Homo sapiens: one gene and its partners. The protein of the gene in region 3 purifies or fractionates together with the protein of the main gene of each other region. This does not show direct contact. Each region holds a gene or a part of one and is shown on either strand. Other genes may lie near its edges. The genes, in order: TMEM33, KLC1 and DNAJC18.

The links.
Region 1: the proteins of DNAJC18 (region 3) and TMEM33 purify together in Homo sapiens (affinity purification with mass spectrometry, with the first as the bait; one large-scale study listed by BioGRID). This does not show direct contact.
Region 2: the proteins of DNAJC18 (region 3) and KLC1 purify together in Homo sapiens (affinity purification with mass spectrometry, with the first as the bait; one large-scale study listed by BioGRID). This does not show direct contact.

Annotation. Positions count from the first base shown.
Region 1 is NC_000004.12:41,945,353-41,949,010, forward strand, and holds part of TMEM33 (transmembrane protein 33), read left to right. Parts: intron 1-3,658. UniProt on the Homo sapiens protein: Acts as a regulator of the tubular endoplasmic reticulum (ER) network by modulating intracellular calcium homeostasis. Mechanistically, stimulates PKD2 calcium-dependent activity. Suppresses the RTN3/4-induced formation of the ER tubules.
Region 2 is NC_000014.9:103,670,650-103,674,307, forward strand, and holds part of KLC1 (kinesin light chain 1), read left to right. Parts: intron 1-2,364; coding exon 2,365-2,538; intron 2,539-2,682; coding exon 2,683-2,782; intron 2,783-3,658. UniProt on the Homo sapiens protein: Kinesin is a microtubule-associated force-producing protein that may play a role in organelle transport. The light chain may function in coupling of cargo to the heavy chain or in the modulation of its ATPase activity.
Region 3 is NC_000005.10:139,409,611-139,412,680, reverse strand, and holds the end of DNAJC18 (dnaJ homolog subfamily C member 18), read left to right. Parts: 3' UTR 1-2,478; downstream 2,479-3,070.

The DNA of each region.
Region 1 (3,658 bases), on a different chromosome or scaffold from region 3:
TTTAAAAGTATGAACATTAAAATAGTATTGACCTCTGCATTGAAATTTTTGCATTACATTTTAAAACAATACACCTTGCTACCCAGATGATTGCTTTATCAATTTTTAGTTTTACAAGTAATGAGACATTACAGATAAAAGCTAAAATAGCATTTGACTATATGAATTCTTGCTGCAATTTTGTCCTCTTCCCAAAGGTGTAAGGAGTTTAATATGTGTCTATGTATGTAGTCCTTTAAAAATACTTATACAAATTTGTAGAACATATATATTATGGATGTGGAGTTTTGTTTGTTAATTTGTTTAGTTCTTATTTTACATCAAAGATGTTATTCTGGCTGGGCACAGTGGCTCATGCCTGTAATCCCAGCATTTTGGGAGGCCAAAGTGGGCAGATCACTTGAGGTCAGGAGTTCAAGACCAGCCTGACCAACATAGTGAAACCCTGTCTCTGTTAAAAATACAAAAATTAGCCAGGCATGGTGGTGCACACCTGTAATCCCAGCTACTCGGGAGGCTGAGACAGGAGAATTGTTTGAATCTGGGAGGTGGAAGTTGCAGTGAGCCCATATCACGTCACTGCACTGCAGCCTGGGCAACAGAGTGAGACTCTGTCTCACCAAAAAAAAAAAAAAAAAAGAAAAGGAAAAAAAAAAGTGTTATTCTGTACCTTTTTCCCACTTGTATGTTTTCATAACCTAATTGATTTGGCATATCCAGTTCTGTTTTTTTTTTTTTTTTAGCCGTATAACATTCCAACTTATCTCCTGATCATGGAATATGTTTCCAAATTTTCAGTTTTCCAAATATTGATGCAGTAAATATTTTTTACCTGCTTATACTTAATGCCAGTGTTTTCTTTAACATAGATACCAGAATTGATTTTGCTAGTACAAGCTAGGTGCCTTTTGTGTTTAATGGACCATGCTAAATTGTTCTTTAAAATGTCTGTATTACCTGTTTTTCATAATTTTGTTAGTTTGTAACAAATGTCCTTATTGATCATATAGTTATATTTTATAATTTTAAATGTACCTTGCCTTGATTAACTAGTAAAGTTTTCATGTACTTGACAGTTACTTCTTTCTATAGCAGTCTCTTCAAACTAAGAACAGAGTTTTATAGATTTCCTTATAAATATATATCTGTTTCATTCTTTTAAGTAGTGCTTTCTTCTGAGAACTCCAGGACTGGCTGGTGTTGCTTAAGTTGTATGGTCCCAACTAGATTTGATGCAGTTGTATTTGTAAATTAACTCTAAAACCTTGACCCTAAAATTTAATAAAAGCATCCTCTTATCCTAGAAGCTGAAAGCATATAAAAGAAAAGGGTAATGTAATCTGGGACAGCAGAAAAAGGGACAACATCAACATTCTAATATTTTTTCCATCATTTATAGGTTTTTCTTTCCACCTCTTTCTTTTGTGATCCTGATCTACACTTAGAAACTTTAATTATTAATTAGTAAGAGGAACTTTTTGCTCCCTTTTGTTATTCATTTTTCTCGGGTTTTTGTGTCACTTAATCCTGCTTTTGGGTCAGGATCACAGGTTCTGTGATTTGTTTCATGTAACTAGATGAAAGTTAAAATGGTAGATACCAGGCCGAGCACGGTGGCTCACAGCCTGTAAACCCAGCACTTTGGGAAGCCAAAGCTGGCAGAGCATGAGGTCAAGAGATCGAGACCATCCTGGCCAATGTGGTGAAACCCCGTCTCTACTAAAAATACAAAAATTAGCTGGGCCTGGTGGTGTGTGCCTGTAGTCCCAGCTACTCGGGAGGCTGAGGCAGGAGAATCGCTTGAACCCTGGAGGCAGAGGTTGCAGTGAGCCGAGATCGTGCCACTGCGCTCCAGCCTGGCGACAGACCAAGACTCCCTCTCAAAAAAAAAAAAAAAGATAGATACCGAGACTAGTTTTTTTGTATGGGTATAATTGATGTCTATATCCTGAAACCTCCAGATTCTGTTTAGTAAGCAAAATAATTTCTTATGCTCCTCTTAAATCAGATTAAAATAATTTTAATGAAATTCTGAGATGCCATGCAAACTTAGACAAAAACTTCACTTTGGAACTATAGTGAATTTTTTGTTAGGAGCACCAGGTTTTGACTGCGTTGGTACATTAATTCAATTGTGCTCCTTAAATGTTTAATTTAAACATTTATTTGTACAAACTTACCATCTTAATTTTTAAGATTACTGTAAAAAAGATGAGAATTTACCAGAAATGTTTAAATAGAGAAATAATTTTGTTTGAAAAATTAAAATCAGCTTATAAAGTGGTACTTAATTCCTATTAGGAAAAGCTGTTAATGCCTTAAGTAGGTAGTTTGAATATGACCTAAACAATAAAATTAAGAACAGTCTTACATTACTGCTATTCTTAATATGCTACCCTTTCTGGTATACACACAGTCTAATATTAGGAGGCTTTATCAAGTTACATTTGTGCCAGTAATGCTTCAAGCTCTGTATTTAAAAATTGATGCATTGTCTGAGTTTATCTTACACATGCGTTGCACATGTGTGCAAAGACAGGTAAAAGGATCATTGTGGCTTTTCTTCTAATTGACTGGAGCCACCCAAATATTCATTAGTACGGAGTTTGTTACATAATAGTCCAAGCATTAGATGGTATATTTGAAGCTGTAAAAAAGATTGCGGTAATTTATGTGTTGTGATATGGGATAATCACCAAGATATAATAAGTTAAACTTAGTTGTGTAGGGTGTTCTCCATTTATATTTAGTGGGGTGTATGTGTGTAAGGACATAGACGTTTCTGTCTCAGTTTTTTGGGAATGATAAACCATCTCTGTCCTAGAGTTGTTAAACAGATTTAGTGAATTATAAAGTGAGCACTATCAATGTTAGTCATTATATACACTTGTATATATACATTTCTGGAAGGACATATTCGAGATTGTGGTATAAGTTTGAGGAAGGGGCTAACTTGGATGATGGGAAACTTGTTTTTTAAGTGAATATTTTCTATTTATATTTTCTATGTTGTGTCTCTTACATTTTCACTTTAAAAAGATAAAAATTTGTCAAATTATTAGGGAAAATGGATGTTGCATTTGTTTAGTGGTAAGTTCGTAATCGTGTAAATTTTTTTTAATGAAAATGATACAATTTAGAAGAAAAGGCTAAAAAACCTAATAAAACACATTTGGCATCTTAATATATTTCTTCCAATTTAAAAAAATACAATTGTAATAATATGTGTAGTTTTATATTCTGCTTTTTTCAGAGTTGCTATGTAATTTTCATAACCAAGATTCTAGGTAGTTGCATATTAAATCCATTAAATAACCATAATATAAGTTGTTCAATTCTACTTCCTTACAGTTCACATTAGGTTGTTGCCACATTTTGTTTGTAGTTATTTCAGTGAATGTCTTAATTCAGATAGTTTTTCTTAGGGAAGAATTCCAGACCTGGTATTTCATAAACATATATATAATTCTTGGGATATTGTAATTGTGTTTTTTAACCAAGAACAATAATTAGTATAGGCTGTTTAGATTTACTGATGAGCCAGTGTAATTTTTTTGGTGGAGGGGAGTGTTTGTTTCTTTTTATATATATAAAATAAGTCACTTTTCATTTGCATATTTTATGAAGCTTTACAACTTGATTTCATCAATTAGTAATT
Region 2 (3,658 bases), on a different chromosome or scaffold from region 3:
TAAAAATTTTTCGGTTTTAGGTTTTGAGAAATAACCACTGTGATGTGTTTTTAACTGACTATTAGCTGAAAACAACTCATTTAATTAGAGAATAGCCCACAAAACAAAGCCAGATTGGCCCATACAAATCAGTGTTTAAGACTCAATTACAGGCTGGGTGCAGTGGCTCATGCTTGTAATCCCAGCACTTTGGGAGGCCAAGGTGGGAGGATCACTTGAGCCTAGGAAGTTTAAGACCAGCCTGGGTAACATAGTGAGACCTCGTCTCTAAAGAAAAAAAAAAGAAAAGAAGGTCCAGTTATGAGGCGTGTGCATTTAGAAAGGTGCAGTCCTGAGTCTGATGCTGTCCAAGCCTGATATGGCCTAGAAGTGACTCTGATTGAAGAAGACATGTCTGAGGACTAGAGATGGAAAGCCTGGGAGCATTGCATTTGACAGTGGAACATGTGCTTGTCAATAAGAAAAACATGATTAAAGATAAATTCACCAAATATGCTTTATGAAGCTGAAAAATGAAATAATTATTATTATAACTAAAGATTAACTCAGAGCTATAGATTAAGTCAATGTCATATATATTTAATACCAGCTGCTACAGTTCATGGTAATTAGGTATTAAAAAATATAACAACTTGTTCATTTCAGCAGTGCTGTGTATGACAATCTCTTTAGATGTTATGAAGATTCGGGTATTGGGTCTATCCGATGAGTGACCACAAATTGTGTTTTTTTTTTTCTGAAACGGAGTCTTGCTGTGTCGCCCAGGCTGGAGTGCAGTGGCACGATCTCGGCTCACTGCAGCCTTCGCCTCCTGGATTCCAGGAATTCTCTTGCCTCAGCCTCCTGGGTAGCTGGGATTACAGGCATGTGCCACAACACCCGGCTAATTTTTGTATTTTTTAGTAGAGATGGGGTTTCACCATGTTGGCCAGGCTGGCCAAGAACTCCTGACCTTAGGTGATCCATCTGCCTTAGCCTCCCACAGTGCTAGGATTACAGGCATGAGCCACTGCACCCAGCCGCACAAATGGTATTTTAACCTGGTATTTTTTGTGATTATTTATCAGTGATTCTTATCAGTTAATTTTGAGCCACATGGCAAGGAATTGGGGGAGAGAAAATAAAAAGGGGCTCCTTATCAAATTATACAGGTAATATTTTATCATGCTGTCAATCTGCATGATATTTCTGAAATAGAATGGTTGAATTTGGGGTGGGCTGGAGTTAAAGTCAGGGAGAGCACAAAAGTATCAAATTAAGGATTAGGAACCATATAAGATGACCTGCCAAATTCATTCATATATTTACCCTTTCATTCATTTAGAGCCCCCTGCTTAGAGTTGGTGATTTACAGATCAGACATGTAGTTCCTCCCACTAGGACACAGTCCACTGGACAGACTGAGGACCGCAGAGGGCACATCAGCATCTAGAATAGAGAGCTCTGGGAGGATATGAAGTGTGGGCTTCTGCGGGCCAGAGCCAGGGGGTGTTGGGGATGGTTTCTCAGGGAAGGTCGGTGTTGGAACTGCATCTTGAATAATTGAGTTAAAAGTGTCCTAGGCAGGGGGAGGTAGGGAATGCAGAAGGGAGTAGAAAGGCAGCTTACCTCCCTGAGGACCACATGTGTAAAGGCACAAAGCGGAGAGAACTCATCACTTGTTCAAGGTACTGAGGGAGGAGGTTAGTGTTCATTCATCTATCTCTGTGCCAGACCCCTTTTTCGATGCGGAGATTACATTGGTGAAGAAGAGAGACAAAGAATTTATACTCTTGGGGCTTACATTGTAATAAAAAATATTCAAGGTAGTTTAGAGAAGTGATTCTTATAAAGAACAACCAGGTGATGTGCCTGTGAGTTCACTAGGTGAGGTGGGGTGGTATAGGGAAGTCTCCTTTGAGGGGAACTGAGGAGAACCCTGAAGGATAAGTCGTAGCTAGTAGGGAGGGCTAGGAGAAGAGCATCCTGGGCAACTGGGACAGCTGTGGGCTCTTCAGAAGCTGGCAGTAAAACTCACATAGCCTTTACAAAGCCCATTTCCTTATCTTCAAAATGTGCCTAATGTGTACATTTGTACATAGTACAACCAATGTACAAAAATATAACTACCATGAAGGATTACTACAGTAATTAACACAGCTAAAGAAGATGAGCACAGTTCCCTCCCTCCCCTCATGAATAAGAATTTGAGAAATTCTGGTTATTTTATTACTACGTGGTGTAGCGAGCCAGTTAAGGATTTAAATCTGAAAGTGTAGCACAGTCGTGCTTATGTTGAGGAAGATCCTGATGTGACAGTAGGGTGGAGAATGGATTGGATGGAAGCAGAACAAGTGTCTCTAATATGCTGTTTTTTATTTTCAGGTTTTGGGGAAGGATCACCCCGATGTTGCCAAGCAGTTAAATAACTTGGCCTTACTGTGCCAGAACCAGGGCAAGTATGAAGAAGTAGAATATTATTATCAAAGAGCCCTCGAGATCTACCAGACAAAACTGGGACCTGATGACCCCAACGTGGCTAAGACGAAAAATAACCTGGTGTGTTGACTGCACAGCACTAGGGAGGGGGCCAGGAGTGCTTTCGTCCCAAGTCCAAACACTTTCTCATTTAACTGGAGATTAAAATGTATGCTTTATTTACATCTGAAAGATATGAAATATTTTATTTTATTTTATTTTAAGGCATCCTGCTATTTGAAACAAGGAAAGTTCAAGCAAGCAGAAACACTGTACAAAGAGATTCTCACTCGTGCACATGAAAGGGAGTTTGGTTCTGTAGATGGTAAGAAATATACTCCCGTTTCAAGTGAATTTAATTGTATAATGACTTGACTAATAGTAATATACTAATAGTATTAGTTACTGTTTATTAAGCACTTAACTTTGTACATCACTAAGCTAAATAGTTTAAATGTGTGATTTCACTTCACTTTCACAGCAGTCTTGTGCAGCGGGTCAAACATTACCCCATTTTAAAAGCAAGGATACCACAGGCCGGGCGTGGTGGCTCACGCCTGTAATTCCAGCACTTTGGGAGGCCGAGGTGGGTGGATCACGAGGTCAGGCGATCGAGACCATCCTGGCTAACACAGTGAAACCCCGTCTCTACTAAAAATACAAAAACTTAGCCGGGTGTGATGGCGGCCGCCTGTAGTCCCAGCTACTCGGGAGGCTAAGGCAGGAGAATGGCGTGAACCCGGGAGGCGGATCTTGCAGTGAGCCGAGATCGTGCCACTGCACTCCAGCCTGGGCAACAGAGTGAGACTCTGTCTCAAAAAAAAAAAAAGACACCACAGACTAAGTGACTTGTGTGAGGCCCCGTAGCTGAGAAGCAGTTAGACTGGGATTACAGTGCCCAGAGCCCATAACATGTCCTCATTGCAGAGACCTATACAGTTCACGCAGAAATGGAGACAGGAGCATCACCCAAATCCATCTTCATGTCCTCATTGCAGAGACCTACCCAATTCATGCAGAAATGGAAACAGGAGAATCACCCAAATTCATCTTTTCACATTTTTAATGTCTTTCCTTCCTTCTGTGCCTTTGGTTTACAGATTTCAAACCATACCGTCCATATCATCATGTATACTGCTTATTTTCTTTACATTTTTAGTGTGAGTACCTTTCAGTCATAAAAATATTTTCATAAACATTA
Region 3 (3,070 bases):
TTCCTGTGGAGCTGAGCTGCCTGAATTATCATGACTCTGAACTTGGAAGGATCATTAAGTGACTGTAGCCTACACTCCATGCTTCCTTCATATTGGAAGAAAAGTTTCTGGTAGAGAGTCGGCCGGGTGCACTGGCTCAAGCCTGTAATCCCAGCACTTTGGGAGGCTGTGGCAGGTGGATCACCTGAGGTCAGGAGTTCAAGACCAGCCTGGCCAACACAGTGAAACCCCATCTCTACTAATAATACAAAAATTAGCCAGGTGTGGTGGCACATGCCTGTAGTCCCAGCTACTCGGGAGGCTGAGGCATGAGAATCGCTGCAACTTGCAAGGTGGAGGTTACAGTGAGCTGAAATCACGCCACTGCACTCCACTCCATCTCAAAAAAAAAAAGAGTCTACATTAAACAGATTCCAAAGTAAAGTTTCTTCATCCCAATGCATGGCCATGATTTACACAGACGTGCCTAGCATGGCTCATCAACATCTGAACGGTTGTTCCCTACCATGCCTCTGCAGGCATTCCACAGAGTCAGGAGATGGGTTCACAGGTAAAGATTGGGGGCTTTAGTGGCTTGTAGGGGACAACTGCTCAGTTGCAGGGAGAGGGAGCATTTCTAGAAATAGCCAGATTTTGCTGCCCAACTAGATCTGTCCTCCTGGTTTTAGGGGGCCCTTCTTGATCCCCTCTGAGTGACTGAGGGAGGTTACATTGTAAAATATGTCCATGAGCCAAACAGGCTTATGGAAAGTTCTTCTACACACAAAAAAATCAAAGCTCTCCTCTCCCCATCCCCAACCACTGCTAGAAAATTGGCCATAATGAAACTGACTTGACAGGTTAAAAGACCCTGTCCTAGATGCCCAGGAATCAGGTAGTCACACATTTTATGGACTTCATGGCAGCGATAAGTAATCTGTGATGATACTAAATAGAAGCAATAATAACTAACTCCATTAAATGTCACGCTGATTGTCTGTTTTTATAGCACCGATGGTACTGTTTTATTTATTGCCAATAGACCACAACATTCACATCTGTTTTTCCTCAAGGGAACCGTATTTGCTTTTGGTTGAAGGATTTATCTATTTGATACTATCCAGAATATTGTGAAGCTATAATTTCCTGGGTTATATTTTAGATGGGTTGTCTGCATGGTGGTAAAATAAGCTTTTTCCTCTCGCCTACGTCCTTTGGAAGATCTCCTGATCATACATAACTAGGTAGGGCTTATTCTTGCTGCCGGAGCTTGGCACCCAGCTCTAGACTGTTTCTTTGAGCATTACTGCAGATTGGAGACGTGTGTGAGAGGAGCAGCGCTCAGAAATAGGGCTTGAGGCTCAAGCAGAAACTGAAGCTCTCATTCAAATGAAGATGCTCTCTCTACCGCACGATCGGCAGTGAGAAAAGGAGGATGAAAATCCTTCTCATCACAAAGAGCTTGAAGGAACCCACGTCCCCAGATTAGCAACCCTAGAGTTCATCTGCTCAGGCCGGGAAATGTGTAAGCTTCCTTGATCAGCTCCAGGCCTCACAGCACGGGAGCAGTGACCAGTAAGGAAACGTCACTGCTGTGCTTTCTGTTGGAAATTGTTCGAAAATACAGTGAACTGGCCAGGCCCAGTAGCTCATGCCTGTAATCCCAGCACTTTGAAAGGCTGAGGCAGGCAGATCATTTGAGGTCAGGAGTTCCAGACCAGCCTGGCCAACATGGTGAAACCCTGTCTGTACTAAAAATACAAAAATTAGGCGGGCATGGTAGCACGTGTCTGTAATCCCAGCTCCTCAGGAGGCTGAGGCAGAAGAATCTCTTGAGCCTGGGAGGCAGAGGTTGCAGTAAGCTGAGATCACATCATTGCACTCCAGCCTGGGTGACAGAGCAAGACTCTGTCTCAAAAAAAAAAAAAGAAAGAAAAAAGAAAATACAGTGAACTCCAGATGCCACTGGAACATGGGTTCCAGCAGCCTGGCCAAGCTATGTGTCATTCTTTTTCCTCATGATACCCAGGATGGGCTTTGTGAGGAGGCACTGTGCCGTTCCAGTGGCTTTCTGTTACAGCTGGCCACACCATACAAGCAAGTACATCATCTGCATGCACTGCTCCTCACAGGAGCTTGCACTTCATTCATATTTATTCTGCCCTCATTTAAGGTATAAGCTTAGTGTCCTAATATATTTATTTTTGGAAAGGGCCAAGTTACAAAACATCTTTTTTTTGAGGCTGCACTGTTGATATGTCATGCAGTGGCCACCAAGAAAGTATATACTCGTGTTAGATACTGATTACATCATTTACATCACGCTCAGTATTTGGAATTAAAGATGTGAATGTTCTGTGACCAGAGTAGGGATGACACAAATGGAATCAGCTCCTGGTGGACTAAGAATCTTGAAAAAATCTGGCCACCTCATCCACTACATCTGGATTGAGTGTACTGCAACAAAGAAAAACATTAAACAATTTTATATTAAAAGAATGGCTACTTTTCCTTGGTTCTTTTACCTTTGCCCATGGCATCCTTGGCCACTGCACATCGCCTGACTCCCTTGGAGCCACTTCCGACTAAAGAAGCTTTTGACGCCTGCTCCAGTCTTCCCTCACCCGTCAGTGGGATTATTTGCATTTAGAATAGTAGATAGCATTGTTGGCATCAGTTCCACATTTTCTATCAGATAACAGCAGCTGCAGTACCTCACAGCCAATATACAGATCAAAACTACACTTAGCATCAGAAATTCAGGTGTTATCCCAGTTCCTTGCTGGCTTTGGTCCTAGTGGCCCATATTTAGGAAAGTTTTGGTTTAAAAATATAGTAAATGATATTTACATGATCCTAACTGGTCATGATAGCTTTCATTTGAAAAAGAAAGTGAGATGAGATTCAATTCAGCAATGATTGAGAACTTACTCTGAGCCAGGTGGGCTGGGTTTTTGGAATGGGGGTCAGGGAACAGGTGAGGCCCAGCACCAAGACTCCTGGAGCTCACATCTAATGGGGAGGCCAGGCTTTCCACAGCACTCCCCAGTGCAATGAATAGCTAAAGGGAGACCAAGGTGACCACAGACTG